2 linked regions of the Homo sapiens genome follow. The protein of the gene in region 1 interacts with the protein of each later gene in a pairwise test. Each region holds a gene or a part of one and is shown on either strand. Other genes may lie near its edges.

What was found.
Region 2: the proteins of TFAP2D (region 1) and KRTAP7-1 interact in binary tests that used the Homo sapiens proteins (3 or more experiments, as listed by UniProt).

Annotation. Positions count from the first base shown.
Region 1 is NC_000006.12:50,716,495-50,723,781, reverse strand, and holds part of TFAP2D (transcription factor AP-2-delta), read right to left. Parts: intron 4,693-7,287; coding exon 4,632-4,692; intron 1-4,631.
Region 2 is NC_000021.9:30,828,289-30,834,190, forward strand, and holds KRTAP7-1 (keratin-associated protein 7-1), read right to left. Parts: upstream 1,472-5,902; 5' UTR 1,411-1,471; coding exon 1,147-1,410; 3' UTR 751-1,146; downstream 1-750. UniProt on the Homo sapiens protein: In the hair cortex, hair keratin intermediate filaments are embedded in an interfilamentous matrix, consisting of hair keratin-associated proteins (KRTAP), which are essential for the formation of a rigid and resistant hair shaft through their extensive disulfide bond cross-linking with abundant cysteine residues of hair keratins.

The sequences.
Region 1 (7,287 bases):
CTGCTGATTTTCAAAGCAGTTAAAGAAATTAGAGAAAAGGCTGTAGGCTGTGGGAAAGCTACCTCTTTCCCTCTACAACCCCCAACGCCCACAAAGATTTCCAACAAATCATGCTTCTGGATGCTTTGGTACAAGAGTTTTAGATTTCATATAAAGGAGATTGAATTTCAAACCTGCAGAATCTGCACTGGGGACTAAGGAGGCAGGCGAGGCTTGAGGTGTATCTCTGGCTCTATCTTCACCCATAATGGATGAACCATAGAGATGAGTTTTGGCTAGCGAGAGTAGTGATTCCAGGTAATCCATCTGGAATCCGAAGAGTACTGACAAAGGAAGAAGAGCAAGGCTTCCCACGCTCCTCCAATTGTACTCCTTCAGGAGCTGCTGAAAGAATCCACGGCTTTCTCCATCCCGGATTCCAAGGCTCTGGGCCTTCCTGAAACCCAGAGAAGCAGAGGAAATCGCTTCCTCCTGCCAAGCAGCCTGCTGCCGGCCTTGAGGCCGGCTAAAGGGAAAAGCGATCAGGTCCTTCTACTCTGTTATGGGCAGACTGAGCAATTGAAGCTAAGGTTCCATTTCAAGGAATTTTTTTTTTAAAGAAATTAAATCAGATCTGACAATGTTTGTACCGCGGCGTAAATGCCTTTGCCTTGGCGTGCCAGTCACCTCTAAGCGCTCTGACAAACTCAAACTCTCTTAAAACGTGCAGAGTTCAGATCATATTAATTCCTCCAAAATGTTTTGATTCAAAGTAGTTTGTATTTTGTGTAGCCACGGGCAATCAGGAAAGCGCTCCTGCCTGCCCATGGCCGGGTCCGCTCCCTCTTCGCGTGGCCCAGAGGCTACCGCAGTGTTTAAGCTTCTGAAATTAGCCTGGGGCTGCAAGGCAGAATGATCACAAAGCGAAACAAGGGCGCTTCCCCTCTTCACTTTTTTCATTTTTTCCTCTCCCATCCCCCGCCCCCCCCTTTTTAGTTGCCATCTCGATTTCACAAAACAGACCAGGGCCAAAATGTCACTTTCCACCCATGTAAGGAAAAGCTAGGTCTTCTCATCTAGCCCACTTCTGAGGTCCACAGCCCACTACCCACTTGTACCCCCACCCTGCGATTCCAATATGGATCCATTTATTATGAGCTTCATCATCACCATCGTCATCAACATTGTTCACTTATTATTAAATACTCAGAGCAGGAAATGAAAGGGACCGGTGTCTGGCAAAGGGGAGGCGGCCATAAGGGAGCCTCAGAAGATTCAGGGGGGAAAAAAAGAGTGAGATTTTCTTTCTTTTTTTAATGATTAAAAACACAGACGACTCCTGTAAATAGAAGCCTCATTTCTTCAAGAGATGCCTTTTGAAACCCGATATCTGAATATTCAACGAAGGCAAAGCTCCACTCTGTACGTACAACATTAATATGATCTCTGCAGAATTTGCTACTCAGTAATATTAACATATCAAAGCCTACGCCCGAGGCGAAAGAAGCTATCGATACGCGAGCACAGGGTAAAGTAAAGATTATTGGTTCTGATGGTTGGAGAGCCGGAGCTGCGGGCAAAATCGCGTACACCATTAACCGAGAGTCAGCACGCAGGGAGCTGCGCCTCCGAGGCAGTGGCAAATATTTTATCTAGGTGGTAATTACCTAGCTGCTGCCCCCTCTTTCACGCATTCTTTGGCTATCGGGCCTTCATTACAGGCTAAAATAATGTAATTGCCACTTAACAAAATGAGTCAGGGCGACGCTATTTTGTTCTTTACAAGTTGAAGTCACCAAATGTGAAGAACAACTGAGAATGCCCAAGCCCTCCACGCCACTGCAAACCAGGACAATGTCCCTGATTAACTCATGTAAAGTACATAGTCACCCATATTTCTTCAAGAACATCATTTGGGGTCTTTGGAAGTGGAATCTATTTTTTTCCCTCCCATAGTACATTCTAGAAACCATTAGAAATGTAAATTAATCCGGGAACTTAGCAGAAAAGAGAAAATGGTGAAAAATTGTGCTTTGCAATAAATCATGTTTCATGTGGTGGGTCAAGCATGAGCTGGAAAAGAAACAGACATTCTTAGCTTTTAGACAGTATCGGGTTATATGAAGTATAGCAGTATAGCAGCACTTGAGTTAATGTCTTCCTGATTTTTGGTGAACACAAGTAGTCTGAGCTGTTGATATTAGGGGTCCTGTGTACTACCATGACAATTGAGAAAATAGGCTTCTTTAGGGTTTTGTAAAAGGAAGTTCTGAGATGAGGGGCTGGGCAGGCTGCAGCAAAATATACGCCCTCTTTTGGGAATACACTTCCCTGCTATCCACTTGTAAATTGACATGAACATTGATTGTTTCAGAATAAACAGACACGTATAGACACACACCCTCCTCTCCAAGGCTCAACTAGGTTAACTGGCCTTTCTCTAAGACACGTGGAAATGGAATAAACTCAGCAGCTAAAATCTGAATTCCTATGAAGAGGGGTTTAGTCAAACAAGACAGACGTAAACCCCAAATTACATTCCCTTTCTCTCTGGAGCTTCACTAGTCTCATATGACATCAATATTTGGTTTCAAGTAGCAGATTCGACGATGATTTTTAGTTGAAACGAATAGGGACCGAATTCTACAGGAATAATAAAGCATCACCTAAGGAAGATAATTTCTGTGGCTCTGATAAGGTAGCTAACATTTTGGAGATACCTAAGAGCTTTGGCCTTTCTTGGGAATTGAGTGAGGGGGTGAGAGGGTGTCCCTTAAATCTCTCCCCAGAAATTCAATTGATTCCAAAGCCTCTTCCTCTCTAACTCCCTCCTCGGCCTCAAGTAATTCCACCCTCTGTCAGGTATCTTACGCTCAGATGCAGTTTCCAAGCATTTCAGAAGGTGATCTTGGTCAAGTGTGAAAGCGAATGCAAAATTGCAGTAGCAAGAGGCCGGCTGTGGGAGAAGCGGGCTCCCGTCCCTAATTAGTGGCGCTGTCCTTCAGCACCACCGAAGTCTCTAAGCGCCCTGAGTGTTCTTGCCTCACCTTATTTTTACCCGTCCCAACAGACCCCTGATCAGCACATCTCACCTGGTCCCCTGTTCACTGTGTAAATCTTTTTTGCCTCCTCCAACACAGTGCATTCAATATTCATCAGTCTTGGGCCTATTTTATTCCATTTCAATAGGTCTGAGTACCAGCGTGGCTGGCAAGCTTAATATTCCTCATTTAAAAAATCTTTGTGGAGTTATACCACGTATATGTGTGTGTGTGTGTGTGTGTGTGTGTGTGTGTGTGTGTGTGTGTGTGTGTGTTTTAATCTCCATAGGGTGAAACAAGAAGTGTTGAGCAGCTCTTTTAAATTTAATGTAAACTACCAGCATCCACTAAAACAATAACCAAGTTCCAAAAGGAAAGCACCCTTTGTTTTCTTTCCTCCTCAGTTTAAATGGAGTTTACATTGGACATTGGGATGTAAAATCTGCAGTTTAAACATGAAAGAAGCAACTGATTTCTACCAGCACATCTCTCTATCTGGAAAAGCAAATCTTTCAAGAAGCTTTCAAAGGGATGGAGAAGGGCTGAAGGACACTTATTTGGTCCCATCAGAAGAGACTCAGTTTTTAGTGTTCTGTTACTGCAGACAACTGTGGCCCTGAAGCAGGAATTAGTCTTGGTGAATAGACCACATCTTATTAATTCGTATGAAGTTAGGATAACAGCTGGTCCCTCTTGCCTTGTGTGCTGCTCGGGTTACTCAGCTTGCTAGAAAAATAAACTTCAGAGGCTTTGGGTACAGTTAAGTAGGGGAAGCTAGCAAAATCTGCACTGCCTTAAGGCTCTGAGAATGTCATAGTTCAAAACCTTTTGTCAAAATGGAACATCTGAGATGCAGCCCCCTTTAGTGCCCGAGCTGAAAGCAACAGCTCTCTCCTCTCCTCTTGCCTTCCCCCACCTTCCAATTCCATGGGTAACTCTGGATTCAGATGTTTCCCTCAACAGATGGGAACAAGAAAGCTTTATCCAGTACAGTTAACACCACCTCCTCCTCCCACCTTCCCTTAAAGAAAGAAATGTCCTGGACACTTAGAAAAATAAGGGCAGCTACAATATTGGTGTTTCATTAGCCTCCCCTGAAGCCTCAATGATCTAGCCTTTCACAGAATCCCTAAAAGCCTGAAGCTAACACCATCATCTCAAACACCCAGGCTGTGGCTAGCACATTTAGGGCTTAAAAAGACCAGAAATTCTGCTGGAGGATGTGGTATTAGTGCTGGGGGAAGAGGGTGTGAGAAACTTCTTTCTTTCTTTCTTTCTTTCTTTCTTTCTTTCTTTCTTTCTTTCTTTCTTTCTCTCTGTCTTTTTCTTTTGTCTTTCCTTCTGCCTCTAACTTTGATTCTGTCACTGTTCTGTGAGGAGCAACAAATATCTCCTATCACAAGTCTTATGGGCATAGCCTGGGTTCAAACCTTGATGAAAGAAAGGAGGCTTTTTAATGTGGATATGCCAGTGTTGGACTAGAATAATTGACTAAGCATAATTGTTTTCTTAATCATCAGAAAAGGAATCTGAGCACAACCAGATCTTCTAAACAAAGTAAGAGATAGGAGAAGAATGTCTAGGGTTAACATGTTGTTACTTGTTACTTACCTCTTCTTATCACTCCACCTTGGCCATTGAGAACAAGCCCACACTGGGCCTCCACAGAGCCCTTAATAAAAGAAACAGAAATAAAATTACTTAAATGGATACTCATATGCATGACCACGTAGGTAAAGTCTTTTAGACTAGCCCATCCCTGAACTCTGTTTCAGTAGACATTTGAAAGCAAGCATTGAGCTGAAGCAAGCTTGCCAGCAAACACAATTTTTTAAAAAATTGCAAGAAAAACCACAATCTAAAAGTTGTATAAATCTTAAGGTATGCATTTTACATCACCATACAATATTACACTTCAAAGTGCCTGGGAGTCTTTCATCTTGGCATAAGAGAATGAGAAGCCCTTTGAGTCCCCATCAAGGCACACAGCGTATATACAGACAGTGTACACTCAGCACTTTCTGAGTAGAGCAAATTACACCTAGAGTGTCAAGTCTGGGACTGTGGGTTTCTTGAGGACACAGAGGAGCTACTTCATATGCAGGATACAAGATGTCTTATGGAGGTTCTGTTTTACCCCAAATGTAGGAACATCCTGTAATCCTACCCAAAATGGGCCGTATGAAGGAAAAATCTTCAGGTTCACTCACTGTAGGCCTTCAAAGTCCTAATGGATTGAGGAATCCCTAGAGCTGGAAAGATGGAAAGAGTTTGCTGATTTTTGATTAGGAAAAATAAAAATTTCTCCCTGTCTGTCGTTTTCTTTTTTCCCAAATCAAAATGTGTTAAAGGCTCATTTTCCTTTACAAACAAACGAGGTATTGGACATGAAAGAGGCCTTGAAGGGTGTTAACCTACCCAACAGCCCGTGAAGAGTTAAGTAAATGCGGAGAGAGTCGGTGCATAATAAAAACCCACTTTACAAAACAACCTTTACAACCCTGGCTCCCTTTCGCCTCCCCATTTTCACCATATTGAGGCAGGCCTGTAAGACCCCCCTTTTCAACCTACTCACAAGCTCTTTCTTATTTTAAATGTTCTGCCTTAAAGTGATTATCAAATCAATATGAAAAAAAAAAAACTTGGAGACTGAGCATAAATTAAAGCGGTGATGGGAAAAGGTGTGACAGTTTCCTTTGTTGGCCATAGCAAATCTTTTTAGGGGACTCAAAGATGGAACTGAAGCCACAAGACTGTTTGCATCTGTTAGGCAGACTTAGACCGCCCTCCAAACCATTGGACTTTCACTTAAAATTCTGTGCAGGGAAAAGTATATTTACATTTGTTGCATTTGAAATGAGGCATATGCTGATGAATGTTTTAAAAAGGAAGAAATAAAAGGAGAGAGACGGGTTTCTCCCACACACTCCCTCCCCATTTCTTGTTTTAAAAGTAGCTATGACTCTTTCTTTTTCATTCTGCCAACTTGGAGCAAGAACAGTGGAAGAAAATAACTTGTCAGATTTACAAACTTGCTACATAGCATTCATAGATTAAATAGATAAAGATGGATATATATTATGATATATACATACATGGATATATCTATGTAAAGGTATAAACGTATATCACACACAGTACTATATTTCTTCTAGTATCTTGGACTGTGTCCCTTAGTATGAGTAATTTTGCTTCAGTATGAGTAATAAAAGAGAAAAAGGACATTCGTATATGGAAAAAGAGATAGGCTGAAGAAAAGCTTTCAAAATATCTGAAATGTAGATGATAAATGGTCTCAAAGCTCTCCAAAGCAGTGAATCACTTTCCCTCCCACTCTCTGGCGCACGGTTACAATGTTTATTTTCTTAGAAGAAACGAATCTTGGTTTCTTCACTTAACAAACTTTTTCCCCTCATAAGTAAAACATGTTGTTTGGTCGGATGACATTGCATAAATGACCAGTTGAATGGCACTAAGTCGAAAATTGGATAAACTACGGTGTCCTTTTGCACGGGATTCGCTCTTTGTCTAGTGCTTGCAAATGTTCTAATCCGCTCTTTTGAAAAATGCTCGGCTTTGTGCCTAGCACAGAAAAAAAATTTGTACAGATACAAAAAAATCAGCAGCAGACGCGGCTATTAAAAGGAGTAAATAGGTTTTAGTTGAGCTAAGCACTGAATGGCAGATTTTTTTCCCTCTTGAGACATAAGGGGATCCTTGTGAAAAATGTAAAAATGCCCTGAGCGTATAAAATTATTTTGTGAATATAAATGTAGAAAGTCAAGGTTTATGGAACCAAATCTTTTTTCTTGTGCACCGGTCTTACTGCTATGGCTCTTTGTTGGGACTGTAAGGGCTTTCACTTTAATTTAAAAATAATCTCTTGCTCAAAGGTAAATGAGGAGGAAAGATTTTTTGTGCGCAACAAGGGATCTCTTACGTCTCCAACTTATGTTCTTAGAATATTTCCCTATTTGTCCTGGAGAGTGTGAAGAAGGTGGCCAGCTTTGTGCAGACACAAAAAGTAGGAACTCACAGGTAGAACTGCACTTTTAGCTAAAAGGAGCTAAAACTATGGGTCTTTTGAATTATTTTCTGGGTATTTGTGGGCTCATTTGTTTGAAATATGCCTATGGCAACATAATTGCATAATTATAAATTCTATCTTTGGTAAAGAATGTGCAAACACGTGTTAAGAAATAAAGTAGAAGAGAGATCATCTGATTGAGTGATGGCCTCCACAGTGTCTGAATACCTGCCTTCTTTC
Region 2 (5,902 bases), on another chromosome or scaffold:
GCATGTGTCTTTATAGCAGCATGATTTATAGACCTTTGGGTATATACCCAGTAATGGGATGGCTGGGTCAAATGTTATTTCTAGTTCTAGATCGACAGGGAGCATTTTCTAAGTGTAGACAACATACCATTTCAAGTGCTTTTGATGGCAACTATTATTTCAAAGAATAAACACTTCATTTTTAGTACTAGTTATATGTATAATCAGAGGTGAAGAAAGTGGAGAAAATAAACCCATCTATCAAAAAAGGATAAAAAATAATATGTGATTTTAGTAGTTGGCTTCCCTTTATTGATCAAATCTTAGGAACTCTTAAAGATAGAGTTTCATAACTAAGTCTATTTAGTTCCAATTCTTCCAACAACATGAGGGGTTCAAATCTCCCCAGAGCTGAGTTCTATAAACAGTAGGAAAGGAGAAATGAACCAAAATGGAATCTTGTCACTAAGGAAAAGAGAAAAGAAAACATGTTTTAGCATTCAACAGCTAAGAAATATTCCTGTTTTATAATCAGCTTTGAGAAACGCCAACAATTGCAGTATATCTGGGTTAAATACGGGACATTTCCAGGGAGTTTTTTAAATTGAAATATCAATATAAAAATAAAAAATGGTTAGGCATCACCCTATCCTGGCTATATAGTCTGAAATCAGAATAAAATTTGGTTAAAGTCAACCATTACGGGTTTAAACTGATTGATGAATTCAAGAGCATAAAAGAGAAGTGAAATAAATAACCAGGACAAAAATATTTATGCTGAAGGAAATAGATTTATTAAGAGACTGACAGAAAATCCCCTTACTACCCACACCCAATTTGTAATACATTAATGTTGATGTAGAAGCTAATAATACATGAGCAGAGCAACCATGGGAGGCAAACTACTTTTTCACTGTTAAAATTCAAGTATGACCAAAAAAATGCATCTTGCTTCCTTTGTCTGTAGATGAGTATCAGTTCAGCACCTGAGTCCTGGGTGACTTGTCCAACAGCATCAAAGACAAAGACCACAGCAAGAAGTCAGCAAGAAGATGGAAGATGTATCACCCAAGCACATGGGAAGGTAGGAAGACAGTCATTGCTCTTCAGGTTGTTCTGTGCAGAGAATTAATTGAGAGTCCTGTAGTCACTGGAGCCATTGGTCCATCAGTAGGTGCTGTAGCCAAAGCCAGAGCCAGAGCCCCATGGCCTATAGAAGCTACCACCATAGCAGCCGCCCAGGTTGTTGATGTTGCTACCACCAAAGCTGTAGCCCAGGGAGCTGTAGCCATTGCATCCACAGCCATAGTTCAGGGGAGAGCCCAGAGGCACAACACAGTTCAAGGGGGTGGCTCTGAAGGTCCCATGGAAGTTGGTCCCATAGATAGGGTATCCTGGGAAGTAGCTTCCACAGCAGAAGTAACGAGTCATGGTGGCAGCAATTGAGAAGGATTTAGATGGATTGTGAAGGGTAAGTTACCCAAGTGTTAATGAAGGTCTCTTCCCGTACAGGGCTTTTTATACCTCAAGCTGGTGGGCACAACACATCTGTCTAAACATCTTCCCACTAATTTGCATAGGTAATCTCATTCTTTTCTAATAAAATGCTTATAAGGAATGCACAGACTCATTGCCCACATTTTTGTTGGCTTTTCTCTGTACTATTTTAAAGCCAGTGACCATGCTTGACACGCAATCGAATTCTTTTCATCAGAGTCCCATAGTTTAACTACTGTTCTTGATTGCATCATGTGAGACTCTTTAAATCCTCTGATTATAAACTCTTCCCAACTGACATAGCTAAACTAAAAAAGCTTTGGCAAGAATGCAAACACTTCAAGCCAAGACAAAGCCATATATTGAGGTCTTTTGAACATTATTTTGAAACATCAAACTGAAATTCTATAACCTCTTGAAATTCACCCATGTGCCCTTTTAAAACAATTGTATACCAACTAGTTAATGGGTACAGAGTTTCCTTTTGGAGTGAAGAAAATCATTTGGAACTAGACAATGTTGCAAAACATTTGGAATGTACTAAATATCACTGAATTGTTACCTTTAAAATGCCTTGGTTTGTGTTATACAAATTTTAACTCAAAATGTATTTTTTATTTTAAAAAGCACTGCTACACAAATCTATCCAACCAGGTGTTTTTACAGAGGCTGCAATGGTGCCAAATAATAAGTTGGCTGTGAATAACCTGCAAGTAATTTTCATCAATTTCATTTATGAGCATTCTGTTTGTTAATACATATTTTATTTTTTCATGGAGAACATACCATGTTTGCTTGTAAATCATCTTGAACATTGCCAAACTGTCTTTCTGGAGTTGCCACACTGGCGCTGAGTGGGATGATGCTCAATTTCAGAGTCATGTTATACCACACTTGCTTCTTACTGACTCCTATAAAACAAGCCTGAATGCCATGATCCATTATGAAATACCAGTTATATTTAAGGATGCAACACTTCCTTCTGCTCTTATTTTGCCTTACATAACCAATTCTCATGAAGAACGTAAACCAGGAAGGATCTGAGCTCAGCAAAGCTAAGTCTATTCCAATTCAAAGGTTTACGACATCATCTTTTTATATGTGAATCAAAGTCAGAATTCTCTGAAAGTAGAAGAAAAAACTTCCTGAATACCAATTCCTTTTTTTATTTCCATCTTAACAGACAATCACAGAGTCCAATATGCAAAACTAATCATTCCTCTCAGACATCCCTCTCTCTTTAAGATTCTATCTCTCTCAGTTTCTCTGACAGAGAGCTGCCTAAAGAATGTTCTATAAGTGGATATGATTTCTTTTATTCTACAAATTAATTAAATGTCATAAGAGTATATAGAGAAAGTTAAAGAAAAATAAGTTATAATTTCAAATTCAGTTTAACAAAAAGAATGAATTAAAATGGTAAGAGGTTGTGTCCTCAGGGTTTAAATTATATAAACTCTGTATCAGATAATCCAGAAAACTCAAAAATACGTTTGTGATTAGGAGAGGGCAGGGGTGACTAAGAATTACGCGTGACTTGAAAAATTTCACTACTGATTCTATCACACAATGACATTGGAACCTGTAATTTGTACATGCTGCCACCAGGTGGCAGTGGTATTTCAGTTACTCCGTATAAACCACAGGACTGGATTTAGGGTTCTCAAATGTAAGCAGGTAGAAGAATCTTCTAAAGAATTCGCTTGAAATTCAGAATTCCAGGAGCTCTCCTCTCCCACCACCACCTGAGATTCTGGAAATCTCTATTTGTAATGGGTATCTCAGGTAATTCTGATGAATAAATCATCCTGATAAATTCCAGGGCTGGTTTGTCATGAGAATTCAAAAAAGCTTTTGCTGGGCTGTGTGAAATTGCCCAGAGATGCTTATCTCTCATTGGCAGGAGTGTTTGGTTTCAGTCGCTGGTGACTTATTTCCCTTAACTCTGGATGATAGAGGTAATTAAAGAAAAAGCTTTAGTTTGTCCTCTTCCATTTCTTGATGCTCTCTGCTTCTTGTCTCAGGACACACCTGATTAGAAAGGGAAGGTAACAGCAATGTGTTCAAGTGTCTCCTCAGAGGTAAAACCCACCTATGTGACTGCTGGTTTTGTTACCCATAATCAAAAGAAAAACTTATATTTTCTCCTTAGCTTGTTTTCACTTTCCTATCTCTTACTAGACATACCCAGAGAAAATTATCAGCCAAGTACTCGATTGCTATTCAATGATTTTTAAGATTGATAATAACAAAAAATATCATTAAGGACTTACTCTGTGCTAGACTCTGTTCTAAAGAATTTGCACATACTACTTAATTATATATTTTACCTCTATATATAGTAAGAAGGCTTACTATGCACTATTCCAAGCATTTGACAAGTGTTAATTCATTTAATTTTTATAATGATCTTATGATGTGGGTATTATGATTCTTTATAAGAAAACCGAGTCCAGAGGGTTTAAGAGAATTACTGAAGGTCACATGGTTAATAGTCAGCAGAATCAATCTCCAAACCCATGCCATCTACCTCCAAGCCATGCTCTTAACTACTTTACTATCCTGCTTTTGATATGTCATTAAGGCTTTAAAGGGATATAGCTTCTACATGCCTCAAATCTATAATTCATTGCATTATTTTTTGAAGAACACATCGATCTAGCTTTTGCTGCTAAAAACTAGAAAACAAAAAAACAAAGGCTAGTTTTTGCTGCTATAACAGACAGACATCCAAAATTTCCATGTTCAGAAATGTATTGCCTGCTCACACTATGAATTCCTCTCACATTGGTGACTGTCTTGGATACACATCATTTTCACTCAAAAGACTCAAGCTGACAGTGCTTTGATTATCTGAAATATGACAAACAGGGGAAAATGAATGGGGCAAGCCATGGTAGCTTTTAAAGGCTCTCCTCAAGTGTTATACACCATTTCCACACTCTCCTCATTTCCTAAAGTAAGTTCCACAGCCACATCTAACTTCACAGGTCACGAAGAGCAATGCTACTATGTGCCTGGAGGGCGAAAGCCTACAATGTCACCGAACAACATTAATGACTTCCACTGAATTTCTATTCCTTACATGGGCTAAAATAATTTTAACAGATTTTAACACATATTTCAAAAGATTAGATGAGGGCAGACATAAAAAGTTTTTTAGAACTTTACATATCATAATGTAAAATGGTCCTGATAATTCTAATCCTGAACAATTTTAAATATAGAGGTTTTATAAGTTGTTTGTGCAATTCATGTAATATTAGTCAGCCTTTGGTTGTAGATTAGCATGTAGCTTTAATTCCTTTTCTTTGTTTTCTTTTCTCCATTTCCCCCTAATCACTATGTACTCTAATTGAGGGAAAAGTTGCCATAAATATTAGTTTTACAAAGAAAATCCCTCAATGCCAATTGATTTGGTGGGGGGAGAGATTAGTTCTAACACCAGATTTTATTTGATTTATTTGAATGCATGTATTTTCTTTAAAGAAAAGAGAAAATGAATTGACACATAGTATTTACAAGGAAAAAAATAAGCAATAAGGAGCCTACATGACATATTCACTTGGAAATTTGAGAACTTTTATCAGGCAAGGATCAGACCCCACTCATAGCCTCCCAGCCTCTCCCACCTCTTATGCAGCTGCCCCTATAGGAATCATCTTGGTGTAGGTTCCAACTCACCTCAAGCTGGTACAACATGATGGAGCTTTACATCAGTCCCCTCACCAGATATCTGTCATCCCCCACCTGGGGACTTCACCTTTAATAGCTAGGATAGAGACTGGGGAGCCTATCTAGGGCCCATGCTTGCAAAACCTGAAGTGTAGGGCAGTTAATGCCCTGTGGAGCAAAACTTCGACCAAAAAGAAATGGAAGTGTGGATATATTCTCCCCTTTTCTCCATGGACAGACTTGCCTGAGACAGTCCTAAGAGGGTTAGGCAGCTTCTTGGGGAATAGTGTCATGGAATCCAGCACATAATTGCTTAGCTATGGTCAACTGGATGAGGCATCTTCATTTGAGCACTCCACCTTCCCTGCTTCACTTCCCTTACCCTTCGCTCCTTCTCCTGAAGAAAGCAATAGTACATGAGCCCTTCACCTGAAACTCTGCTTTCTAGAAAACTCAGAACAGAATACCACATCAAACCATCTTTGGAATAGCACCTTTACTGAGATGTAATTCACATATGATAAAATTCACCCAAAAGTGTACAAAAAGTATACAGTGGGTTTTAGTGTATTTATAGAGTCCATCACCACTAACCAATTTCAGAACATTTTCTTTACCCCAAAAAGAAACTCCATAACCACTAAAAGTCACTCCCAATTTACAACAACTAAACTAAGTTCTCATTCATAAGACTTAAGCTGACAGTGCTTTCATTATCTGAAATATTACAAACAAGGCAAGAGGAATGGGG